Linked DNA regions of Homo sapiens. The protein of the gene in region 1 purifies or fractionates together with the protein of each later gene. This does not show direct contact. Each region holds a gene or a part of one and is shown in the gene's direction. Other genes may lie near its edges.

What was found.
Region 2: the proteins of FADS3 (region 1) and NEMF purify together in Homo sapiens (affinity purification with mass spectrometry; one large-scale study listed by BioGRID and IntAct). This does not show direct contact.
Region 3: the proteins of FADS3 (region 1) and PEX7 purify together in Homo sapiens (affinity purification with mass spectrometry; one large-scale study listed by BioGRID and IntAct). This does not show direct contact.
Region 4: the proteins of FADS3 (region 1) and UPF3B purify together in Homo sapiens (affinity purification with mass spectrometry; one large-scale study listed by BioGRID and IntAct). This does not show direct contact.
Region 5: the proteins of FADS3 (region 1) and NPLOC4 purify together in Homo sapiens (affinity purification with mass spectrometry; one large-scale study listed by BioGRID and IntAct). This does not show direct contact.
Region 6: the proteins of FADS3 (region 1) and VKORC1L1 purify together in Homo sapiens (co-immunoprecipitation; one large-scale study listed by IntAct). This does not show direct contact.
Region 7: the proteins of FADS3 (region 1) and MFAP3 purify together in Homo sapiens (affinity purification with mass spectrometry; 2 studies listed by BioGRID and IntAct, with this or other methods). This does not show direct contact.

The regions. Positions count from the first base shown.
Region 1 is NC_000011.10:61,874,546-61,878,045, reverse strand, and holds part of FADS3 (fatty acid desaturase 3), read left to right. Parts: intron 1-458; coding exon 459-535; intron 536-1,082; coding exon 1,083-1,180; intron 1,181-1,590; coding exon 1,591-1,687; intron 1,688-1,855; coding exon 1,856-1,935; intron 1,936-2,042; coding exon of another isoform or gene 2,043-2,069; coding exon 2,070-2,195; intron 2,196-3,500. UniProt on the Homo sapiens protein: Mammals have different sphingoid bases that differ in their length and/or pattern of desaturation and hydroxyl groups.
Region 2 is NC_000014.9:49,828,789-49,832,288, reverse strand, and holds part of NEMF (ribosome quality control complex subunit NEMF), read left to right. Parts: intron 1-11; coding exon 12-82; intron 83-162; coding exon 163-238; intron 239-927; coding exon 928-990; intron 991-2,862; coding exon 2,863-2,940; intron 2,941-3,026; coding exon 3,027-3,235; intron 3,236-3,481; coding exon 3,482-3,500. UniProt on the Homo sapiens protein: Key component of the ribosome quality control complex (RQC), a ribosome-associated complex that mediates the extraction of incompletely synthesized nascent chains from stalled ribosomes as well as their ubiquitin-mediated proteasomal degradation.
Region 3 is NC_000006.12:136,829,092-136,832,591, forward strand, and holds part of PEX7 (peroxisomal biogenesis factor 7), read left to right. Parts: intron 1-3,500. UniProt on the Homo sapiens protein: Receptor required for the peroxisomal import of proteins containing a C-terminal PTS2-type peroxisomal targeting signal. Specifically binds to cargo proteins containing a PTS2 peroxisomal targeting signal in the cytosol.
Region 4 is NC_000023.11:119,839,464-119,842,963, reverse strand, and holds part of UPF3B (regulator of nonsense transcripts 3B), read left to right. Parts: intron 1-1,185; coding exon 1,186-1,229; intron 1,230-1,705; coding exon 1,706-1,888; intron 1,889-2,279; coding exon 2,280-2,318; intron 2,319-3,500. UniProt on the Homo sapiens protein: Involved in nonsense-mediated decay (NMD) of mRNAs containing premature stop codons by associating with the nuclear exon junction complex (EJC) and serving as link between the EJC core and NMD machinery.
Region 5 is NC_000017.11:81,627,113-81,630,612, reverse strand, and holds part of NPLOC4 (nuclear protein localization protein 4 homolog), read left to right. Parts: intron 1-807; coding exon 808-888; intron 889-3,500. UniProt on the Homo sapiens protein: The ternary complex containing UFD1, VCP and NPLOC4 binds ubiquitinated proteins and is necessary for the export of misfolded proteins from the ER to the cytoplasm, where they are degraded by the proteasome.
Region 6 is NC_000007.14:65,876,074-65,879,573, forward strand, and holds part of VKORC1L1 (vitamin K epoxide reductase complex subunit 1-like protein 1), read left to right. Parts: intron 1-3,500. UniProt on the Homo sapiens protein: Involved in vitamin K metabolism. Can reduce inactive vitamin K 2,3-epoxide to active vitamin K, and may contribute to vitamin K-mediated protection against oxidative stress.
Region 7 is NC_000005.10:154,041,967-154,045,466, forward strand, and holds part of MFAP3 (microfibril-associated glycoprotein 3 isoform 1 precursor), read left to right. Parts: intron 1-3,500. UniProt on the Homo sapiens protein: Component of the elastin-associated microfibrils.

The DNA.
Region 1 (3,500 bases):
GGTCTCCCTGGTCATGGCATCCTCCCAGCCTCTGCAGTCTGTACACACTCTCCCAGCAGCATGCCTTTGCCCCAGCTGTCTCCCGTGCCTGGGACACCTTGCAGCCACGGGCCATCACAGCCCTGCTGGGAGCTTCCCCAAGCCCCACGTAGAATTTCTTCTTGCCCTCACTAGAGTGGTCCGGAGCCCTAGAGTCTTTGGGCAGTTGTTGGGGCGGACAGAGTGAGGACTCAAGTCTGGCCCTGACTTGCGGTGAAGGGTGGTGGGAGGTGGTGGGGTAAGGGCAGCCTGGGGAGGCTTGGACACAGAATTGGGGGTGATATGGGGTCATTCAGCTGGATGTGACCAGCACCAACGTCCCAGGGGCATTCCTGGAGTAACAGAGCCCCTCACTCTGGCGCCCACTCACCTTGGCAGCCCAGCCCCACTCCTGAACACTCTCATGCCCCTTCTTGCAGTCGGCCCGCCGCTGCTCACCCTGGTGAACTTTGAAGTGGAAAATCTGGCGTACATGCTGGTGTGCATGCAGTGGGCGGTGAGTGGGGTTGCCCAGGACCCCGGGCATACGGCTGCCGTGGCAGGAGGTGGTGCCTCGGGGGACAGTACCTGCCCATGAAGGCAAACAGGGTGCACATGTGCGTGCAACAGTGTGGCTCACATGTATGCGTGCAACAGTGTGGCTCACATGTGTGCGCGCAGCAGGAGAGCGAGTGTGCCCGTGACTGTACGTGTGGTGGGGGGGGGTTGAGGAACAGGGGGGGTGTGGGTCTCTCTCGGTGAGGGTGTCTTCCCAGGAGGAGTTGCTGGGCTGACTCTGCCAGGCATCTGTGTCCCTGGCAGGGTCTTCCCCAACACACCCTGCATGACACCTTCGTCACTAAAATCAGCCTCGTGAGCTGGCAGGGCAAGGACCCTGTTCCTTTACTCAGCTGAGAAAACCAGAGAGGGTGGTGGCCTGTCCTGGGCTCTGAGGCAAATCAGGCAGAAGGGTTGGATGCCTGAGGTCCTCCTCCCACCCACCAGGCCTCCAGACCTCCGGGCACCTGGAGACCTCTCGGTATCGCCTCTGCCCTCCTCTGCAGGATTTGCTCTGGGCCGCCAGCTTCTATGCCCGCTTCTTCTTATCCTACCTCCCCTTCTACGGCGTCCCTGGGGTGCTGCTCTTCTTTGTTGCTGTCAGGTATGGCAGGGAGTGGCGAGGTCACACACAGGCGACAGGTGACCCCCACTGCAGCCCCCCACCAGAGCTTCCCTTTTCCCGTCTGCAGAATGGGGCCAGTGGTACTGCCTCCCTGGCTTGCTGGTGGAATCACATAAACACAAGCGTGGCAGGAGCCCAGGGTCGGTGGGTTTAGGGAGCGTGGCCTGGCTTGTAAGTGGCCCGGTGGGTGTCGGAGCTGCTCTGGACTCAGCCTCACAGTGGACACTGCTCCATTCAGATTCTTTAAACACTGGCAAGGGGGCGATGGCCACAATCCTATTGTACAGATAAGGAAGTCAAGGCCACTTGGGGACAGCTGCTCTCCAGCCTCCACTCAGGGTGCCTAAGTGGTGAGCTGGACCTAGGGCAGTGCCCGAGCCTCCCCACAGGGTCCTGGAAAGCCACTGGTTCGTGTGGATCACACAGATGAACCACATCCCCAAGGAGATCGGCCACGAGAAGCACCGGGACTGGGTCAGCTCTCAGGTGGGCAGCAGGGGTGGGGCCCATCCTGGGTGGGGTGGGGGGTCCCAGCTAGGAGCCAGATGGCAAAGCAGGGATGAGGCCCTGACGGGGCTGCCAGGTGGGGGATGGTGCCGTGGGGTCAGGGATCTGCAACGGCCTCCTCACATGTGCCCCGCCGGCTTCCGGCAGCTGGCAGCCACCTGCAACGTGGAGCCCTCACTTTTCACCAACTGGTTCAGCGGGCACCTCAACTTCCAGATCGAGCACCAGTGAGTGTGGGTGCTGGGGGCCAGTGGGAGGTGGGGAGGGGGTCCTGGGAGGGGATCCTGGGAGGGGACCCGTGGGTGGGGCCTCTCTCTGGAATCTCCCACTTCAGGTGCCAGCATACGCTCCCCACCCCCAGCCTCTTCCCCAGGATGCCGAGACACAACTACAGCCGGGTGGCCCCGCTGGTCAAGTCGCTGTGTGCCAAGCACGGCCTCAGCTACGAAGTGAAGCCCTTCCTCACCGCGCTGGTGGACATCGTCAGGTGAGGCTGCAGCCCGGCCCCTCTGTTCTGGTGGCTTCCCCAGGGCCTATGCCTACCCTTGTCCAGGTCAGCCTCATGCTGAGCCCCCAGGGTCCCTGAGCCTTTCTGTCCACGTCCCATGCCCTTCCTCCCTTCCCCAGCCTTCACGCACACAGTGAGAATTTCTGGAGCACCTACTGCAGACTCACAAACAGCAGTGCCTGCGGTGAGCAGGTCTATGCAAACCTACCCCCAAAGGCTGAGGGAAAGAAGCTAACAGATCCAGTTTCTCAGAAGGAAACACTTAACAGGGACTCATAAACAGAAGCCATGTCTCAGGGCCGGGTGCGGTGGCTCACGCCTGTAATTCCAGCACTTGGGGAGGCTGAGGTGGGCGGATCACTTGAGGTCAGGAGTTCGAGACCAGCCTGGCCAACATGGTGAAACCCCGTCTCTACTAAAAAAAAAAAAAAAAAAAAAAAAAAAAAAAAACAAAAATTAGCTGGGTGTGGTGGCAGGTGCCCATAATCCCAGCTACTTGGGAGGCTGAGGGAGGAGAATCACTTGAACTCGCAGGGGCGGAGGTTGCAGTGAGCTGAGATTGTGCCTTTGCAGTCCAGCCTGGGCAACAGAGCAAGACTCTCTCAAAAACAAACAAAAAAACCATGTCTCAGGCAGCCAAGAGTTGGGACATCCCCTCACACGCCCTCTAGAAAGAACCCTCTATATAGCAAGCTTTTAGGGTGAACCCCATGCAGGTGGTTCTTATGAACCTGGTGACCACTGGAGGTTAGATAAGCGTCTACAAGAGGAGGTTATCTATGCCATGAGCTTGGCATTCAGGGTCAAGCATCGGTCATCAGACAGTTTTGCTTGAAGATGGCATTGCCCTTGTAGCAATGCAGGCTCTAGAGAGCTTCCTGCCCTCTTGGAGCTGATGTTCCTTCCAGCAAAGGAAACAGCAAGCAATTAAAATAACAAATAAGTACATTACAGAAGATGGGCAAAAGAACAATGAAAAGCCCCTCAGGGTGGGGACAGGGGAGGGGAGGGGGGCGGCCAGGCAGGGGCGGCAGTTTCTAAATAGGTGGTAGGGTGGGCAGTATTGACAGGCTGACGTGTGAGCAGGGACAGGGAGGAGGGGAGAGGTCTCGCCACAGGGACATCTGGCAAAGAGCGTTCAGGCAGAGGGCACTTGACCCTGAATGCCAAGCTCATGGCATAGATAGCCGAGGCAGGCATGCAGGCACTCAGAGAAGGGACACGCCCGGCTTGCATCTTGGAAAGCTGCCCCTACTGGGAATGACTGGCGGGCAGGAGTCGAAG
Region 2 (3,500 bases), on another chromosome or scaffold:
CATTTTTGTAGGGATATATCATTCAGAAAAGAGAAATAAAACCAAGCTTGGAAGCAGATAAACCAGTTGAAGACATACTGACGTAAGCATATAGGCATGGGTCAATTTGCTTTGGATGTTTGTTAATGTTCTCGAATGTGATATAATAAATATGTTTTACAGGTATGAGGAATTTCATCCTTTCTTGTTTTCTCAACATTCACAATGTCCATATATAGAATTTGAATCATTTGACAAGGTGGGTTTTCCGTTCTGTTCCTTTACCAGTTAGTTAGCATGATATGAGCTGTTGATATCAACTTGCTTCTATTGAGAAACTGAAACTATACTTGCTTTACATTCACTGTGAATCTGGGCATTAAAGATCAGTGTCGTCACAGATACAGCTGTTGGAAATAATTGTTGCCACTTTATTTCAGGATGAAGGACCAGAGGTTTGAACTTCATTTGATTCTTGATACTGTTTAGCCATATAATACATTTACCGGAAATCTGTTCAAGTTCTTTGAGTGGTGTTATGAAACACAATGGAATCTAAAATTCTGTGTATGCAGCTGGGCTTGCTGGCTCATGCCTATAATCTCAGCATTTTGGGAGGCCAAGGCAGGCAGATCAGTTGAGGTCAGGAGTTCAAGACCAGTCTGGCCAACACAGTGAAACCCTGTCTCTGAAAAACTACAAAAATTAGCGGTGTGTGGTGGGGTGCACCTGTAGTCCCAGCTGTTTGAGAGGCTGAGGCAGGAGAATCACTTGAACCTCGGAGGTGGAAGTTGCAGTGAGCCTAGATCGCGCCACTGCAGTCCCGCCTGGGCAACAGAGTGAGACTCTGTCTCAAAAAAAAAGAAAAAAAAAATAAAATTCTGTGTATGCAAGTTGAAGTAGAGACTGTGCTTTTTTTTCCAACTAGTTGTTTGTTTTTTTAATAAGGCGGTGGATGAATTTTATTCCAAGATAGAAGGCCAGAAAATTGACTTAAAAGCTTTACAACAGGTATGTATTATTAAAAACACATATTAAACCAGCTAGTCTTTAGCGGCTTGATGGGTAGATGATATAGGAAAGGGTAGCCTTTCAGAAAGAGTGTAAGAAGTAGTATGGGAACTCTCTGACCTGCCTCTTTATTTATGATAAAGGTTTATGAAGAAGGTCCATGGGGGATTTTATTGTTGAAAAGTATGTCCTCATTTGTTTCATGAGTATTTCAGATATTCTGTAAAAAAAGGAAAATACGGTGGGAACGTGAGGCCTGTTATTTACACCTTAATGTGGTTTGCTCAGAACAACCCAAAGCTTCTCAAACATTGCTGTTAAGGAGATACTGTTTTAGGGAGATTTTAAATAGGCCAGAGGAGGGGATATTGTTTATCATTAAACTGTTTCTTTTTTAAATGGACTTTAAAGCCAAGTCTTAATATGTTTTCTGTGTATCATGACTCCAAAAGAAGTGATATACAGTATTTTCCCAGCACATTTGACCATGTTTTTAGAGCATTTGCTGCAGAACAGTTTCATAAATTGTTAATAGTCACTCTTGATTTGAAGGGGATTTGATTTTTTCAAAAACAGTCTTAAAATATGTGTGCAAAAATTTCAAATTATTTGAGGCTGGGCGCGGTGGCGCACGCCTGTAAATCCCAGCACTTTGGGAGGCCGAGGCGGGCAGATCACTTGAGGTCAGGAGTTCAAGAACAGCCTGGCCAGCATGGTGAAAACCTGTCTCTGCTGGAAATACAAAAATTAATGGGGTGTGGTATGGGTGTCCAGCTACTCAGGAGCCTGAGGCACAAAAATTGTTTGACCCTGGGAGGCGGAGGTTGCAATGAGCTGAGACTGTGCCACTGCACTCCAGCCTGGGTGACAGAGTGAGACTCTGCCTTAAAGAAAAAAAAATCAAATTGTTTGAATCCCTGTACCACTTCCTCTTCAGTTTTTAAAAATTAGTTAATCATAGCACAATTTCAAAGCAGGTAGGCCAGTCAGATGAATTATATACATCATGTAATTACCACATGGTGGCAGCACTTTGGCTAGTAAACTGAACCCCATGGTTTCATGGGTGTCAAAATACTAGTGATTTATTTTGGTAATTATTTTGTGGGTTTTAATAGTCATCATTCTTATCTAAATTTTAAAAAATATTTCATCTAGCATTTAAATACTCATTAATTGATGATATTACTAGTGTTAGAAATTTTGTCCCCCAATTGATAACCTTGAAATGTAAAGTATATATGATAAAATGCCAAATAACTACCATGAGCCTTTGTCTTATTAATTTAGGGGAAAAAGTTTCTGTAAAATACTGGAAATAGTTGTGAGAAAATCAAAAGTAGCAAAAAATACAAAGTCATTTGGTAATTTATGCTCTTTGGGAATTCATTCCCTGCCAGGTGCAGTGGCTCAGGCCTGTAATCCCAGCACTCTGGGAGGCCAAGGTGGGAGGATTGAGCTCAGACATTGGAGAGCAGCCTGGGCAACATAGCGGGACCCGGTCTCTATTATTTAAAAAAAAATAAAGAATTCGTTCTCCCAAACTTTACTTTTGTGCCATAGGAAAAAATGTCTTGATTTCTGCCTGTTTGAATAATGCCAAGGGTATTAGGGGTATATCTTATATACACAGTAACCTGTAATCAAAATACCTTTCTATATAAGGAGTGGGAGTTAGGAAGACAGGAGAAGTAATTTTGGGGCATGGAACGCATTGTAGTGGGATAGGCCTAGGGTGGTAGACTATGGGAACTTCAGCTAGCTAGATAACAGCATAGATGGGGTCAGGATAGTGAGTGTTGGGAAGTAAGAGAGGGATGTCATGAGGTAGGAGAAATCTAATTTTTAAAAAATCTGTTTTGCCAATAAAAGGAAAAGCAAGCATTGAAGAAATTAGATAATGTTCGAAAGGATCACGAAAACAGATTGGAAGCTCTTCAGCAGGCTCAGGTATTATGTTTGGCTTTCTCAGTGCTTTTTCAAAAATGTTAACTTTAACTGGCAATGTAGTAAATGTGTGTGGTTTGTTTTTTAAGGAAATAGACAAACTGAAAGGAGAGCTCATAGAAATGAACCTACAAATAGTTGACAGAGCCATTCAGGTAGTTCGAAGTGCTTTAGCTAACCAGATAGATTGGACAGAAATTGGGTTAATTGTGAAAGAAGCCCAGGCTCAAGGAGACCCTGTTGCAAGTGCAATCAAAGAATTAAAACTACAAACAAACCATGTTACAATGCTGCTAAGGTAAGTTTGACTCTTAGTCAAGCAGTTAATGCTTGTCTTTATTTTGTTATTTTAATTGTTCACTGTATTAAACATTTTTTCTTCATATTTTGAAATTCTCAAAGAAAGGGAAAAAACTAATTTAGATTAAAATAAATAATGAAACTTCCAGTACTGTAAACCATTTATAATTTTATTGAAGAAGAAAATTGAAAATAAAAGTGATGTCATTGACGTTAGTGAAATGCTATTGAATATTTTTAATAGAAATCCATACTTGTTATCA
Region 3 (3,500 bases), on another chromosome or scaffold:
GTTTACTGTTTCACATATTTTGCTTGGTTATGTGAAAAATAAATGAAGATAACCTTTTTAGGTATTTGTTACAGCAGCACCCCTAATTCTTGGCACCAGTTTCTGCCTCAGTCTGTTCAGGCTGCTGTAACAAAGTATTATAGACTGGGTGCCTTATAAAGAACAGAAATTTATTTCTTACTATTCTGGAGGTTGGAAGTCCAAGGTCAGGGTGCCCACATGTTTGGGTTCTGATGAGGGCCCTCTTTTAGGTCAAAGACTACTGCTGTCTTTTCATTGTATCTGCAGGTGGTGGAAAGAGAATGAGAGAGGTTTGGGAAATCCCTTTTATAAGAGCACTAATCCCATTCATGAGGGCTCTACATTCATGACCTAATTACCCCCCAGAGGCCCTACGTCCTAAAACCATTACACTGGGGGGTTAAGATTTCAACATGTGGGTTTTGTGGGGATATATTCAGTCCATTGCATATGCCAGATACTCAAAAATACTTAAAAGGATTTAAGCTCAAATGAGAGTTTTAAGGAGCTAGTAAATATTTGTTGAATAAATTAATAAATGAGGCTGAGTGCAGTGAGTCATGCCTGTAATCCTAACACTTTGGAAGGTCGAGGTGGGCAGATCACTGAAGGCCAGGAGTTTGGGACCAGCCTGGCCAACATGGCGAAAACCCCGCCTCTACTAAAAATAAAAAAATTAGCTGGGTGTGGTGGTGCACACCTGTAGTCCCAGCTATTTGGTGGCTGAGGCACAAGAATCATTTGAGCATGGGAGGTGGAGGTTGCAGTGAGCTGAGTTCGTGCCATTGCACTCCAGCCTGGACAACAGAGTGAGACCCTGTCTTAAAAGAAAGTTATTAAAAAAAAAAGTTGATAATGAACATAGCCAATTTCTGTTTTTTTTTTTTCCACCAGTATGTTCAGGGAAGCTGTGTTGTGAAATAGAAGAGCAACTAATGGGTCATTTTCTTCTGTGGAAGAGAGTATATAATAAAGACGTATAGCATGGTTTTAGTCAATCTTGGATTTGAATCCCAGCTTTGTAAGTTACCTGTTGTGAGACCTTGCGTATGTCACATATTTTTCCTAAACTTGAGTGTTTTTATTTGCAAACTAAGTTTATTAGTAGTCTGTATCACAGACCAGCATTGAATAAATATGAGCTAGTATTATTATTTGCTCTTATTATAATAGGGTTTGAAAAATGTAAAACAAGTTAGAACTTTTCCAGTTACCCACTTTACCACTTGATGGCTATGTGTCCAACAGTCAATTTTCAAGTTGTCAGATGAAGCAAAAAAGAGAAATCCAAGATTTAGATATATTTTAGGCTTTGAGGAGTGAAGGTCTTGGTGAAATGAAAAGAAAGAAAAACATGGACATTATCTGTGTGAATGGTTGCTAAACCTAGCATCGAAGTAGGAATCAAATTCTTCTGTCTATTGTTTAACTGGTGTCTGCAGAGGTCATTATGTCTTTTGAGTCCCATAAAATGCCTTTGGCTTTGCTTATTCTAATGCTGCTGAATATATAATAAAAATTTTTAAAAGTTCAGTGAGAATAGAAAAATAAGAGTGAATTGACAATTTTATTTCACTGCTTTCTGACTTAAAACACTGTGCTACTGAGAGTGAGTTAAAGTGACTTTAAAGATGACATAAATCAATGTAATATATTAATTTCTAATTTTCAGACTAATGAGTTGGCTTATCACAATTTAAAAATGAGTTAAAATTTGTTCTCATAGTCAAATAACAAGGTTTATCAATTTGCTGAATTTTTATAACATATTTGATCCATTGAGGTTTTTGAGCATTGCTTATAAAAACTTATTTTTGACCTAAGTATACAACTATTAGTATTCTGTTATGGAGGAAATGTATTTGCTTATACATTTCAAGAGTTAAAATCTTGTTTACTTTAAAAAATGAATCAATTATTTACTTTTTGATAATGATAGAAGCTGAGAAGTCAATAATGATAGGTATTGTATTAGTCTGTTTTCACATTGTTATAAAGAAATACCTGAGAGTGGGTAATTTATAAAGGAAAGAGGTTTAATTGACTCACAGTTCCACATGACTGGGGAGGCCTCAGGAAACTTAAAATTATGGCAGAAGGTGAAGGGGAAGTAGATAACCTTCTTCACAAGGCAGCAGGAGAGAGAGAAAGAGAGAGAGAGAAAGCAGGGGAAACTGCCACTTTTAAAGCCATCAGATCTTTTGAGAACTCCCTCACTATCACAAGAACAGCATGGGGGAAACTGCCCCCATGATCCGATCACTTCCTACCGGGTTCCTCCCTGGACACATGGGGATTACAATTCAAGATGAGATTTGGGTGGGGATATAAAGCCAAACCATATCATTCCACTCCTGGCGCCTCCCAAATTTCATGTCTTTTTCACATTTCAAAACCAATCATGACTTTCCAACAGTCCCCCAAAGTCTTAACTTATTCCAGCATTAACCCAAAAGTCCAAGTCCAAAGTCTCATCTGAGACAAGGCAAGTCCCTTTTGCCTATGAGCCTATAAAATAAAAAACAAGTTAGTTACTTCTAAGATACAGTAGGGCTATAGGCATTAGCTAAATGTTTCAAATGGGAGAAATTGGCCAAAACAAAGGGGCCACAGGCCCCATGCAAGTCTGAAACCCAGCAGTGCAGTTACTAAATCTTAAAGCTCTGAAATGATCTCCTTTGACTCCATATCTCACATCCAAGGGGTAGGCTCCCATGGCCTTGGGCAGCTCTACCCTTGTAGCTCTGAAAGGTGCAGTCCTTATGGCTGCTTTCACTGGCTGGCATTGAGTGCCTGTGGCTTTTCCAGCTGTACAATACAAGCTGTCAGTGAATCTACCTTTCTGGGGCCTGGGGGACAGTGGCTCTCTCCTCACAACTCCAGTAGGCAGTGCCCCAGTGGGGACTGTGTGGGGCCTTCAACCCCACATTTTCCTTCTGTACTGCCCTAGCAAAGGTTCTCCATGAGGGCTCCTCCCTTGCAGCAGACTTCTGCCTGGACATTCAGGTGTTTCCATACATCCTCTGAAATTTAGGTGGAGGTTAAACTCTTGTCTTCTAAACTCTTCTTGTCTTCTGTGTACCCACAGACCCAACACCACATGGAAGCTGCCAAGGTTTAGGGCTTGCACCCTCAGAAGCAATGGCTTGAGCTGTACCTTGGCTCCTTTTAGCCATGGCTGGAGCTAGAGCAGCTGGATGCAGGGCACCATGTCTTGAGGCTGCACAGAGCAGCAGGGCCACTCAGGCCCACAAAACCATTTTTCCCTCCTAGGCCGCTGGGCCTGTGATGGGAGGGGCTTCTGCAAATGTCTCTGACATGCCTTGGATACATTTTTCCCATTGTTTTGGCTATTAATATTTGGCTCCTTGTTACTTATACAAATTTCTGCAGCAGGTTTGAATTTCCCCCCAAGAAATAGGTTTTTCTTTTCTACCTCATGGTTAGGTTGCAAATTTTCTGAACTTTTATGCTGTGCT
Region 4 (3,500 bases), on another chromosome or scaffold:
AAAGTTCGATGACTGATAAGGAATGTTTAGACAGTGGTAAGCCTTTGAAGGTCAATTGGTATTTTCTAGTAATAAGTTCATATTCCTAAAAAAATTTTGACTTGAAAATACGAAAAAATGAAATTAGTTACTGCAAAATTGAAAACTACTTGAGGAATTCTAGCTTGGATCTTGGTTCTCAGTAATAGGCTGTCACTACTGTATCAGTAGCTCTAAACATGAGCATAATCTTTGACCCAGGATTTCTACTCAGGAATTTATCCTAAGGAATATGTGGGGTTTTTTTGTTTGTTTGTTTGTTTTTTTTGCTTGCTTGCTCGCTCGCTCTCTCTCTGTGTGTGTGTGTGTGTGTGTGTGTATGTGTGTGTGTGTGTGTGTGTGTGAGAGATGGAGTCTTGCTCTGTCGCCCAGGCTGGAGTGCAGTGTCGCAATCTCGGCTCACTGCAACTTCCGCCTCCTGGGTTCAGGCGATTCTGCCGCAGTCTCCCGAGTAGCTGGAAGTACAGGTGTCCGCCACCACGCCCGGCCAATTTTGTATTTTTAGTAGAGCCGGGGTTTCACCATGTTGGCCAGGCTGATCTCGAACTCCTGACCTCAAGTGATCCGCCTGCCTTGGCCTCTGAAAGTGCTGGGATTACAGGCATGAGCCACTGTGCCCGGCCAGGAATATGTGTTTTAAGATGGCTGTAAGGCCAATAGCTTATTCAGAATGTTGAAAATGAAAAATATTCTTCCAAAACTTGACTTTTATTAATAGATGGATAGTACAAGCCTATTTCTGGTAACTTTCTTAGAATAAATTCCCAGAAGTGGAATTATGGGGTCAAAAGGATTAGATATTTTTAGCCCCTTCCCCCCAACTTCTTCCAGTTGAACAAGTTTACACTCCTATCAGTAAAACAAGAGAATGTCCTAAGTACTTAATTCTCATCAGTTGGGAATGACTCTTTTAATAAATTATTTTGTTGTTTTAATTTGAATTTCTTTACTTTTTAAAAGGTATTTTAATCCCGTATTGTTGAAATCGAATGCTGTAAAACTTCTTTCTGATATTACAATTGTGATCTTTCTGCATAAGGGGTGTACATGTTTTCCCACCTTGGGTGGTTGGCAGGGAATGTCAGAAAATGGAATCGTTTCTAGGGGTTGATAAGTATGATTAATAATCTGTTTACATTTATGTAGCTAAAAAGACAACCCCACTTTTGAGCTTCCTGAAAAACAAGCAGGTAAATCTTTTGTCTTTATAGTTCTCTCAATACTTTAATTTCTTTGCTTTGCATTCTATAAACATTTTAAGAGCATTGGGTTTCTAGAGGAGAAATAGCTGCTTTTTCCACCATTACTCTTTAAGGATTTGCCTTCTTGGTCTCACTCTCTAGCCTGCTCCTTCACTCTGGTTGTTGGACCAGGAGTTCACTCTACAAACGTGGAATGTTCTTAGGTTGTCCCAGAGACACTCATTTGATATTCTGAAAGCCTCTGGAGAGATAGTAAGGCAGCAGTGGAAGAATAATATTAGCAGGTTCTGGTCTTCATTGTCTTTCGTTTTCTGGGTGGAGTGGGGATAACGGTGGTAGAATGCCACTTTGTAGAAAGTAGGAAGGAAAGATTATTCAGTTGGGGCCTACCATGACTTCAGGATTTATTAGGGTTTTGGTGATGATTATTTTATTTGAAGGCTTGTGTTGATGTTTCTTTCTAGAGAATGAGAGAAGAAAAGAGAGAAGAAAGGAGGAGGAGAGAAATAGAAAGAAAAAGACAAAGAGAAGAAGAGAGGAGGAAATGGAAAGAAGAAGAGAAACGAAAAAGGAAAGATATAGAAAAGCTAAAGAAGATAGACAGAATTCCAGAAAGGGACAAATTAAAGGATGAACCAAAGATTAAGGTATAAGAATGTTGAAACTGACTGCATGTTGCTAAAAATTGCACGTATCTACTTCTTTAAATATGCATGCGTCTTGTGTTGGTGTAAATGAATTTTTTGTTTTGTTTTTGTTCTCTTTTGGGGGGAAGTGATCCAATAAAAATCTTTCCTGTAATAGTATTAGTTTTTAAATTTAAGATCATTTAAAAGGATAAAGTAGTATGTTATTTCTTCAGTGCAGATCTGTGCTGTTTTTGTCATTGAAAATGTTGGATTTTTAGACTATTGTCCTCTAAATTCATAGTAAATGAGGGCTTAGGGCTGGCTGGCATGATTTATGGTTTTTTTTCAGCTTTTTCTTCATAATTGATACATGAAGTTACCTCATCTGTTTGTTTTCCACTGTCTTCAGGTACACAGGTTTCTGTTACAAGCTGTGAATCAGAAAAATGTAAGGACCAAGTACATGATACAGAGCATCTAGTATCATGTCACACACACAGGTCTTAGCTAATAAGTCCTTTTGGTGGTGGTGGTGGTAGTGTTACTTGTTGAAAACCCCTTCAGGTTGACTTGAGTCTTCTTAAAAGCTGAGCTATTTTATTATAAATTTCTACTTTAAAAGGAAGCCCAGGTGACTTCCTGATGCTCTGCTGTGTGCCCAGAAGCTTCATTGACCTACAGCCAGAGGACAACCATGCCTATATAGTTCTTTCTCATCTTCTTATATGCTTCTCATAACTGGCTGCCTTGTGGGAGGACTAGGGATAAATACCCTGCAATATGTGCCTTTCCCTCTCACATGACTCCCGTAGTATCTTCCTGCATATATCTGGGAATCTGTGAGCAGCAGATTCGGATTCATGCATTGCATTTGGGAAGAAGAAAACCTGCAGAAAGATCCCAACCTTGCCACTTCCCTTCTAAGGGCATGGCTTGGGCAGCCCTTGTTTCAACATATTTCCTGGGGAAGTACTAGTACCTAGCACTTCAGATAAAGTCAAAGAAAATCTCACAGAGAGGGTGGCAGGGTCTCCTTATTTTATTTCCTGAAAACTCAGCAGTTTATGTAGCAAGGGTTCCCTAAGTCTCTACGGGGCTCATTACTGATGATGAGGGGCTTGGGGGAGGATGGAGTTTCTCATCTTAATTCTTTCCAGCAATCTCTCTGTCTGCTATGCCACAAGTGACTTGACTTGCTATTCCTAACAATCAGCAAGGCAGAAGGTAGAGCCAGCCATGCTAGAGACATTCATTAATGTTCTTATTAGAGTAATGAACACCTTGGTTTCTAATAAGGATGTTCATTGGAGAAATAAGAGCACTTCCAATGAAACCTGCACATGGTATCCTCATTTTACACTGGTGCCTTCTCAGTGTCCATTTTGGACTCACCATTTGCAGTGGCTGTCTGTGTGCCAAAATGCTTTGTGCTTATGTCTTGTGGTGCTTTGCCTTTTGCTTAGTAATTTACATGATGCCTTCACCCTGAGATGAACCTTGTGTGATACCTTCACTCTGAGACTTGAAATTCTTCTATTTTGCCTAAGAATCTCTCTGATTATCCGACACTTGGAGGTATTCTCGAGAGATTCATAGCAGCAATGTAAAAAACAATGGCATTTTTGAACAT
Region 5 (3,500 bases), on another chromosome or scaffold:
ACTGTGTCTGGCCATTTTTAAACGTTTTTTAGGGAAAGTAAGTAATAGCTGGCGTTGTGGCTCACACCTGTAATCCCAGCACAGTGGCAGGATCACTTGAGCCCCGGAGCTCGAGATCAGCCTGGGAAATATGACACTCCGTCACTACAAAAAAAAAAATTAACCTGGTGTGGTGGTGCAAGCCTGTGGTTCCAGCTCTCGGGAGGCTGAGGTCAGAGGATCACTTGAACCTTGGATGTCAAGGCTGCAGTAAGCTGTGATTTTGCCACTGCACTCCAGCCTGGGTGACAGCAAGACCCTGTCTCAAAAAAGCAAAAAAAAAGTAACAATTAGAAAATTTCCTGTGATTCTTTTAAATTGTAGGACTCTTGAAGACTGTCTAATGTTTGTATATAGATCCTGGAACAAAGTAACATCTTTTTTTTTTTTTTTTCCCCAAAGTAACATCTTTTTTAAAGAACACAGTTCATTCATGGTTCATGGTGGGTTTTTCTCTGTTTTAAGTCTGAAGAGACAAAAAGTGTTTTACATATACTCTATAAATAGTGATTAGGAATTAAAGTTGTTTTCTGAGTGAAACTAAGAGTTGAGAGGACAGTACTCTTAAAATATCTCCCCATATGTTGATGAATCTCACCCCTCGGCATCATATTCTAGAAGGATTGAGCTGGGTATTGAAAGGTGAAGAGTGAGGTTTGGCTTTAATTTTCAGTGACCCAGATGCTAAAAGACCACAGATGGAAGCCGTAGTATTAGATCAGGACCTCACTAGGCTGTGCAGTAACCATCATGTTTTGTTTGCAACAGATAATTCGTGTCCAGTCCCCGGATGGAGTGAAGCGGATCACAGCAACAAAGAGAGAAACAGCAGCAACATTTTTGAAAAAGGTATCTGTGGCCTGGGTATTGACCCTCAGGATATTTTTCATCCTCTACTCTTACTGCCATCGATACCTTTTCTCTTTTCCTCGTTTTCTTATTTTCCCTATTCCCAAATTGCCTCTTGCATTGCCTTTCTCTATCACAGTTGGGTTGGATTGCTATAGGATGAGATGTTTGTCACAGCTGATCACTGCTCAAAATTATAGGACCAAGAGCCCAAAGGTAAGTGTAAAAATATTTCACGGCTGGGCGTGGTGGCTCACACCTGTAATCCCAGCACTTCGGGAGACCAAGGCGGGTGGATCACGAAGTGAGGAGTTCAAGACCAGCCTGGCCAAGATGGTGAAACCCCGTCTACTAAAAATACAAAAATTAGTCGGGCGTGGTGGTAGGTGCCTGTAATCCCAGCTACTTGGGAAGCTGAGGCAAGAGAATTGCTTGACTCAGAAGGCAGAGTTTACAGTGAGTCGAGGTGGTGCCACTGCACTCCAACCTGGGCAACAGAGTGAGACTCCATCTCAAAAAAAAAAAAAAAAAAGTATTTCATAAGAGTGGCCAGGCGCAGTGGCTGACGCCTGTAATCGCAGCACTTTGGGAGGCCGAGGCGGGCGGATCACAAGGTCAGGAGATTGAGACCATCCTGGCTAACATGGTGAAACCCTATCTCTAGTAAAAATACAAAAAATTAGCCGGGTGTGGTGGCGGGCACCTGTAGTCCCAGCTGCTGGTGAGGCTGAGGCAGGAGAATGATGTGAACCCAGGAGGCGGAGCTTGCAGTGAGCTGAGATCGCGCCACTGCACTCCAGCCTGGGCGACAGAGTGAGACTGTCTCAAAAAAAAAAAAAAGTATGAATTGTAGATATGACTACAGTTGACTCAAAGAATCATCCCTGGCTCCTCCCTGGTCTCCTGACCTGCATTGTGTCCAGGATTCCCATGACAGTTTTTCTTTTTTTAACCAATCACAAAATATTTCATTTACTGTGATAGTTGCATATTATGTACTTCTTAGCTTATCTTCACAGTTTCTTCCTTATTTACTTTTCCCATGGATTCCCCCAGACTATTTCTGTCTGGTGTTGTTTCTCTTCAGACTGAAAAACATCCATTAGCCTTTGTTGTAGGTAGGTTTGTTGGTCACAGACCTTTGGGTTTTTTTGACCTGAAAATGTTTTCGTTTTGCCCTGTGTTTATATGAGGGTTATTTTCTTTTTTTTTGAGATGGCATCTCACTCTGTTGCCCAGGCTGGAGTGCAGTGGCATGATCTCGGCTCACTGCAACCTCTGCCTCCTGGGTTCAAGCAATCCTCTGCCTAAGCCTCTCGAGTAGCTAGGATTACAGGCACCCGCCACCATACCTGACTAATTTTTTGTATTTTTAGTAGAGACGGGGTTTCACTATCTTCACCATGCTGGTCTTGAACTCCCGACCTCGTGATCCACCCGCTTCAGTGTGAGCCACCGTGCCCAGCCATGAAGGATATATTTTCTTTTTCTTTTTTTTTTCTTTTTTTTTTTATGAGAGGGAGTCTCGCTCTGTCTCCAAGGCTGGAATGCAGTGGCATGATCTTGGCTCACTGCAAGCTCCGCCTCCCGGGTTCACGCCACTCTCCTGCCTCAGCCTCCCGAGTAGCTGGACTACAGGCGCCCACCACCATGCCTGGCTAATTTTTTGTATTTTTAGTAGAGACGGGATTTCACCATGTTAGCCAGGATGGTCTTCATCTCCTGACCTCGTGATCTGCCCGCCTTGGCCTCCCAAGGATATTTTCATTCAATACAAATTTCTTTTTTTGAGATGGAGTCTTTTTCTGTCGCCCAGGCTGGAATGTGGTGGCGTGATCTCGGCTCAGTGCAACCTCCGCCTCCTGGGTTCCAGCAGTTCTCCTGCCTCAGCCTCCCAAGTAGCTGGGATTACAGGTGTGCACCACAATACCTGGCTAATTTTTGTTTTTGTTTTTTGAGACAGAGTTTCGCTCTTGTTGCCCAGGCTGGAGTGTGATGGCATGATCTTGGCTCATTGCAGCCTCTGCCTCCTGTGTTCAAGCAATTCTCCTGCCTCAGCCTCCCGGGTTCAAGCAATTCTGCCTCAGCCTTCCGAGTAGCTGGGATTACAGGCATACGCCACCAAGTCCGGCTAAGTTTGTCTTTTTAATAGAGATGGAGTTTCACCATGTTGGTCAGGCTGGTCTCGAACTCCTGACCTCAGGTGATCCACCCGCCTTGGCCTCCCAAAGTGCTGGGGTTACAGGCGTGAGCCACTGCACCTGGCCTCAAAACAGATTTCTGAGTTGACAGTTCATTTTTGTTCCCCACCATGCATCAATTTTTTTTTTTTTTTGAGACGGAGTCTTTCTGTTGCCCAGGCTGGAATGCAGTGGCGCGATCTCGGCTCACTGCAAGCTCTGCCTCCCAGGTTCATGCCATTTCCCTGCCTCAGCCTCCCGAGTAGCTGGGACTACAGGCACCCGCCACCATGCCCGGCTAATGTTTTTTGTGTTTTTAGTAGAGATGGGGTTTCACTGTGTTAGTGAGGATGGTCTCGATCTCCTGACCTCATGATCCGCCTGCCTCGGCCTCCCAATGTGCCGGGATTACAAGAGTGAGCCACCACACCT
Region 6 (3,500 bases), on another chromosome or scaffold:
TATTTCTAAAGAAATATTTCACCGAAATTAGTAGGCTACAATAGAAATGCTGATTTTTCAATTCTACCATGTACAGCCAGTAAAAACAATAACACACCACTATCTCCTGTCACCATCATTTCATTTAACAAAAGGATATTTCCATTCAAACAATTTGAAAGAACAGAATCTCTCAGAATAAAATATTTTTAAATGGAATCATTTAGCTATATGGAAAAGTTTACTTTCAGACCAGCCTGGCCAACATGCTGAAACCCCGTCTCTACTAAAAATACAAAACAAGCTGGGCGTGGTAGCATGCACCTGTAATCCCAGCTACTCGGGAGGCTGAGGCAGGAGAATCACTTGAACCTGGGATGCAGAGGTTGCAGTAAGCCAAGATCGCGCCATTGCACTCCAGCCTGTGTGACAGAACGAGACTCTGTCTTTAAAAAAAAAAAAAAAAAGTTTACTTTCGTGTCCTTACTTTTTCCCATTTTCCCATAAATCGGTGAAAACTCTGCTGCAAACCTGCACCAGCCTGCCAGCTAACATTCAGTTAGCAGTCCCTGCCCCCTTGGTTTGGTACACTGAGCTCAAATCTAAGGGATCTGGGTGGGCTTCCACCTCTCCCAGTTCTTAGGCTTGTGGCCTTATCTTCATGGTGCCTCAGTTTCTTATGTTAAATAGGGCTTTTAACACCTACTTAGGGCCTGGTGCAGTGGCTCACACCTGTAATCCCAGCAGTTTGGGACGCTGACACCTGGCAGACCTCTTGAGCTCAGGAGTTTCAGACCAGCCTGGGCAACAGGGCAAAACCGTGTCTTTACAAAAAATACAAACGTTAACCGGGCATGGTGGCGCATGCCTGTATTTCCAGCTTCTTGGGAGGCTGAGGTGTGAGGATCACTTGAGCCTGAGAGGCTGAGGTCTGCAGTGAGCCATGATGGTGCCACTGCACTCCAGCCTGGGTGGTAGAGAGAGACCCTGTCTCAAAAAAAGAAAAACAAAAAAACCTACTTTGCCAGATTAGTGTTACGATGAAAAGTGATACATGTATGTTCCTGAAATAAAGCCTGTCCTCAGTTATAGCTGTTACCATTGATTGGAGATGTTCTTTTTTTTCCAGTGTTTGATAATAAATGCCTTTAAGTATAAGTTTCTTGTACATACTTGTTTATATGTTTAAACATTAATTGTTTTAATGTAGTTTATTGCTGACTTTATAGCATAGTATAAAGATGTGTTCATTTAAAACAATTTTGAAGTTGTGCAAGAGAAACTAATGCAGAATATTCTTTTTTTTTTTTTTGATGGAGTCTCGCTGCTCTGTCACCCGGACTGGAGTGCAGTGGCATGATCTCAGCTCACTGCAACCTCCACCTCCCGGGTTCAAGCGATTCTCCTACCTCAGCCTCCCAAGGAGCTGGGATTACAGGTGCCCACCACCATGCCCGGCTAATTTTTGTATTTTTAGTAGAGACAGGGTCTTGCCATGTTGGCCAGGCTGGTCTTAAACTCCTGACCTCAGGTGATCTGCCTGCCTCAGCCTCCGAAAGTGCTGAGATTATAGGCATCAGCCACCGTGTCCAGCTGTAATATGCAGAATATTCTATGTAGGTATTTTCTATATATAAGACCCCCTCTAAGAAGGGTTTCTATGTAAGAATAGTACAAATGATCTGGAAAGGTTAATAGGCTTGACAAATCTATGTTTCTTAAAACTGTAAAAATAGTCTGGTTGTCCTATGGTCTATGTATAGAACATATACCATAGGGGATTGGTTTCAGGACCCCTGTTTTTACTGAGATCCTGGCATACTCAAGTCCCCACTGTGGGCCCTGCAGAACCTGAATGTGAAAATTTGGGCCTCCATATATGCAGGTTTCGGTCTGCATTTGGTTGAAAAAGATCCACGTATAAGTGAGCACACACAGCTTAAACCCGTGTTGTTCAAGGGTCCACTGCATTTGAAAATCAAGTCCATAAAAAAGTTGCCTTATTTTACAAAATGTCGGATTACTACCTCTCCCATATCTTAAAAAAAAAGTACCATCTATTTACTACCCCATTGAGATAATAAAACTTTTAGAATTAGAATAGAACCTAGGGCTGGGCATAGTGGTTCACGCCTGTAATCCCAGCACTTTGGGAGGCTGAGGTGGGTGGATCACCTGAGTTCAGGAGTTTGAGACCAGCCTGGCCAATATGGTGAAACCCCTTGTCTACTAAAAATACAAAAAATTAGCCGGGCATGGTGGTGGGCACCTGTAATTCCAGCTACTCGGGAGGCTGAGGCAGGAGAATCACTTGAACCCGGGAGGTGGAGGTAGCAGTAAGCCGAGATTGTGCCACTGCCCTCCTGCCTGGGCAATAAGAGGGAAACTCTGTCTTACAAAAAAAAAAAAGAACCTAGAAGTATTTACTGCTCTTTGCTTTGTCTGAGACTCAGAGGTTAAGTGACTTGCCCAAGATAGCACAGGTAGTAGCAAATTGAGACTTGACACCTGGCTTCCAGAGTACTTATTTAAAGTCCCCTTTGCACCCCCATTTTAAAAATTAAATTCTTGGCTGGACGCAGTGGCTCACGCCTGTAATCTCAGCACTTTGGGAGGCCGAGGTGGGCGGATCACGAGGTCGGGAGATCAAGACCATCCTGGCTAACATGGTGAAACCCCGTCTCTACTAAAAATACAAAAAAAATTAGCCAGACATGGTGGCACACGCCTGTAGTCCCAGCTACTTGAGAGGGGCTGAGGCAGGAGAATCACTTGAACCCGGGAGGTGGAGGTTGTGGTGAGCTGAGGTCGTGCCACTGCACTCCAGACTGGGTGACAGAGTGAGACTCTGTCTCAAAAAAAAAGAAAAATTAAATTCTTGTCTAGGTAAGGCATTCGCTGCTTCGGATTTGAAAGATAACAAAGCATGTACAGTGAAAAGTCTCCTTCATATCCCTTCCACCAGACAGTTCTCCCGCTCAGTAGACCGCTGTGAAACTTTTCAGAGCCGTTTGACACATAGACAAACATCCACGTGACCATATGATTCCTCCCTTTTTTTAACATGGAAGTATCACGTATGCATCCTTATTGATAGCCTGCTTTTTGCTTGGCATTCGTTCCATTGCTCCCATACTTTAAATGCTTATGTTCATATTTAGTGAAATGTTAATAACTGCTAGTACGTAAAAGAGAATTTGTTCTAGTAGTTTTGACTAACCAAGATAAATTTCAGAAATAAAATTCTTAACATTATCATTGTTTCTTGGTATGGAAATTTCAGAAGCAGGTTGAACTGAAAAGAGTCCAAGAGGAATAGAGAAATATCACAAGGAAGTGAATCTGGACTGTAGTAGAGATAAATGTTAATACTTACAGATAATGCTTACTATGTGCTAGGCAGTGTTCTAAATGTTTTGCATACATTATTGAAGTCTCTCAAGAGTCCCATGAGGCAGGTAGCTTTTATCACCATTTTACACATGAGAAAACTGAGCAACGCAGACTAACACTTGATCCAG
Region 7 (3,500 bases), on another chromosome or scaffold:
GAAAACTAAGGCCTTGCAAGCCTATGGCTTCACCCAGGGGTAGGATCAGGCACCTTAACTCTAGAGCCCATTCTCCTAACCACTGAGCCATGATTGTCTTACAATTTTGATACTGCAAAACTGGAAGAATTGTCTGGCTATTATCTAAGCTGTTCATAAGCTGAACAAGTAGATCTGAGGGTAAGAGGAGTTCTGTTTTAACTAGACTGAGTTTCAAATAGAGATGTTTCAGACTATAGAGGGGGAAAAATGGCCTGGGAAGATCATAAATCTAAGCCTGTTTCATTGATGTTTTTGTCATTTGCATCCAGTAGCTATTCAGCAAATATACCTATGGCAAAAAGGATATAAGTTATGGGTATAACTGAAATAATCCTGGGTTTAAAGCAAAGCTCTGATAAATACAGACGATGTTTCTCCAGGTGCCAGAAGATATGTTGAAGTTTGAGCTCAGACTGACCAAATGCTAGTTATGGGGTATGTGATAGCTCCAAGGTAGTAATATAAAGGCTATTTTAATTAGAAACTTTTGAGTAAATGGCCCTCAGGATAGTGATTTCTGTTTGAATGTCACTAACCTTTTTTAGTTACAGATCCCTATAATAATGCTTGAGTCTAGGCAGAACAACTTTGTGTTTATTCTTTGCAAAGGGTAGGGTAGTGCTAACAACCTGCTCTTCATTTGCTTTTTCTCCCCTTTGCCGATTCAGAATGCTGCTTTGTCAATTTGTGTGCCTGCTGTAGGAACTGGTCCGTTTTCCAAGTGTGACAGTGCAGGCAGAGAAGGGTGGATGAGCTGTAAATGCAGCCTAGAACACATTTGATTATAGAGAATGAAGCACTAATATCCCAATATAATTGGAGTTTAAAAAAAAAAAATACCACCTGGGCATCAATGTGTTTCCCTGCTTTGCATTTTCCCAGAACTATTTCTGCAAACATCAGTTTCCTCAGCCAACTTAATATTGAGTCACCAGAACGGAAATCAGCCATATTACTTCCTTATTTGTGTTGAAAATTGGAACAGAATGGAAATATTTCTTCCCTCAGAAGTTGGCAGGAACGGCAACAAGACAATCTGTTAGGGGTGACAGCTATAGGCTCTTCTCTTTTTTAAAAATAATATAGTCAATATTCAACATGGTTTTCTGGGGTAAAATCATCCACATTTCTGATTCTTTATGATCCTAGCAAAGCTTACATTCTGTATACCTGAAAGATGAAAAAGGAGTTGGATTAAACTTGAGTCTTACACTTATCTATTACATTTTTATTTATTAATGCTGAAGAAAGGTAATATAGGCTGGGCGCGGTGGCTCACGCCTGTAATCCCAGCACTTTGGGAGGCCGAGGCAGCCAGATCACCTGAGGTTGGGAGTTCAAGATCAGCCTGTCCAACATGGAGAAACCCCGTCTCTACTAAAAATACAAAAAATTAGCCAGGCGTGGTGGTGCATGCCTGTAATCCCAGTTACTTGCGAGGCTGAGGTGGGAGAATCGCTTGAACCTGGGGGGTGGAGGTTGCAGTGAGCCGAGATCTCACCATTGCGCTCCAGCCTGGGCAACAAGAGCGAAACTCCGTCACACACACACACACACACAAAAAGGAAAGGTAATAAAAAATTTTATCAAGTAACTTCATCCACAAACATAGTATAGCCCTTTTTAACTGATAAGAAGAAGGTGACACTTTGGTTTTCCTTTTTGAAATCTGTTCTTGGGTTTCAAATGTCAGCTGCTACATTAAAAACAGCAGGCATAATATATATATATATATTTTTTTTTCCAAATACAAATGCACGTACTCTTGTGTCTCCCATGGCATCTAATATACCTGCCTTAATGACCTCAGCCCACTTAACTGATTTGGTGAACAATTCTGCATCTGAGGCTGTATATGTGAGGAAAAATTAAAGGATTGGAAATGAAAGTAAAATAACTATAGTATAAAGGATCATATGTTCAAAGCATGCAGGCCTAATATTATAGGAAGTCCCAAACATATAAGTGAATTGCATTCCTAGAACTGACACATTTGTCTTTTCTCTGTTGCATTCACAATATAATTACATTTCAGTCACATTGTCTTAGATACAGTTGGCTGTTTCTGGGCTGTCTTTCAAGCTGGTTTGTAAATTCCTGAGGGTCTAGGACAGTGTCCTAATTCTCCTTAGCAACTCTTGCACCACCTACTGTACTTCATCTTCCACGATGGATCCTTGACCTAGCTGAGCTGTAGTTTTAAAGTCATTAGTCTAGAATGAGCAGAATGGTCATAGTCAATGCAGTTTGTGCTGCAAGTAGCAGAAACCCATTCAAGCTGACTTAGCAAAAAGGAGACTTAGTGTGAGGAAATAATAGTACCCTGATACCAAGGATGATTTGTTCTTCCCTCACTATTTTTTTCTGCTTTGTCACCTTCTTGGACACGTATCTTTGCCAGTGTTTTCTCTCACAGCTGCTGAACAGCCTGTTACCTGCAAATGGGTTATATCCGTTAGTCTTTCAAATCAGAAGTCCTCTGTGTTCAGGATGTACATGGTATGAGTGAAGTGCCCAGTATTAACTGGATGTGTAAGGCTATTGTGCAGCCTCTTTCTCTTGTGGCTCAAAATCAGTGTGCCAGGTTTCTTCTGCCATGTTTGGCCTAAGAGCAGTTTAAGGGAGTTTATAGTGTTTTCCTAAATCCTGTCTGGTAGGTAGAGGCAAATGGCTATGTCTGTACAACACAAGAACCACAAATCTTGGCCACATGGGCAGTTTGCTTGCCACACTCCACTGTGTAAGGAAGAGACTAGAGATCTATGATGAAGATTGCCTGGCAGCCACAGACACAGTTCAATAACTTTTTGTGAACTTAATCTTTTTTCTCCTGCCTAACCATTTCCGCATTTATTACGTGTTTGCACATTCATCTTCACTTTTGTGGTTTTAATTTTGAGTAAAATTTAATAAAGTTGTTTCTTTTTTTAAAAAAAAAAAAGGGTCACAGGAGTGCCAGGAAGTAGAATTCTATCAGGCACCAAAGCACCATGTATGAGTCTCTCTTTGTCTTTCTCCTGCTCCTCTTCCTGTCTTCCCACTCTCTCCCTTCCCCATCCCTCTTGTCCTTTCTTACAGCTTCTCCTTGTATGTGGCCCAAACCTGACTGCCTCAGCCCCCACATGCCTCCTTTTCCTCAAATGACCCTGACCCACAAGGGTCTCAATTCCAAGTTCCAAGAACAAAGATTCTATTAGCTTACTTTGCCAATAGGTTGTCTTCCTCCTAGACCCAAGAAGATAGGGATAGGGCTCAAAGAGGGGAGCCGTTGGGTAAGTAGATCACGACAAATCTTCTCTACCACAAACTGAGGACACATACAATGTCATATCATGGTTGGGATCCAAGCTCAGTTTACAATGCCTATATGCTCCATAATATTGCAAAATATTTGCAATGAGAAAAAGAAAAATGTGAAATTTTAAATTTAAGATTAAAACTGCATAATGGTGTCCCCT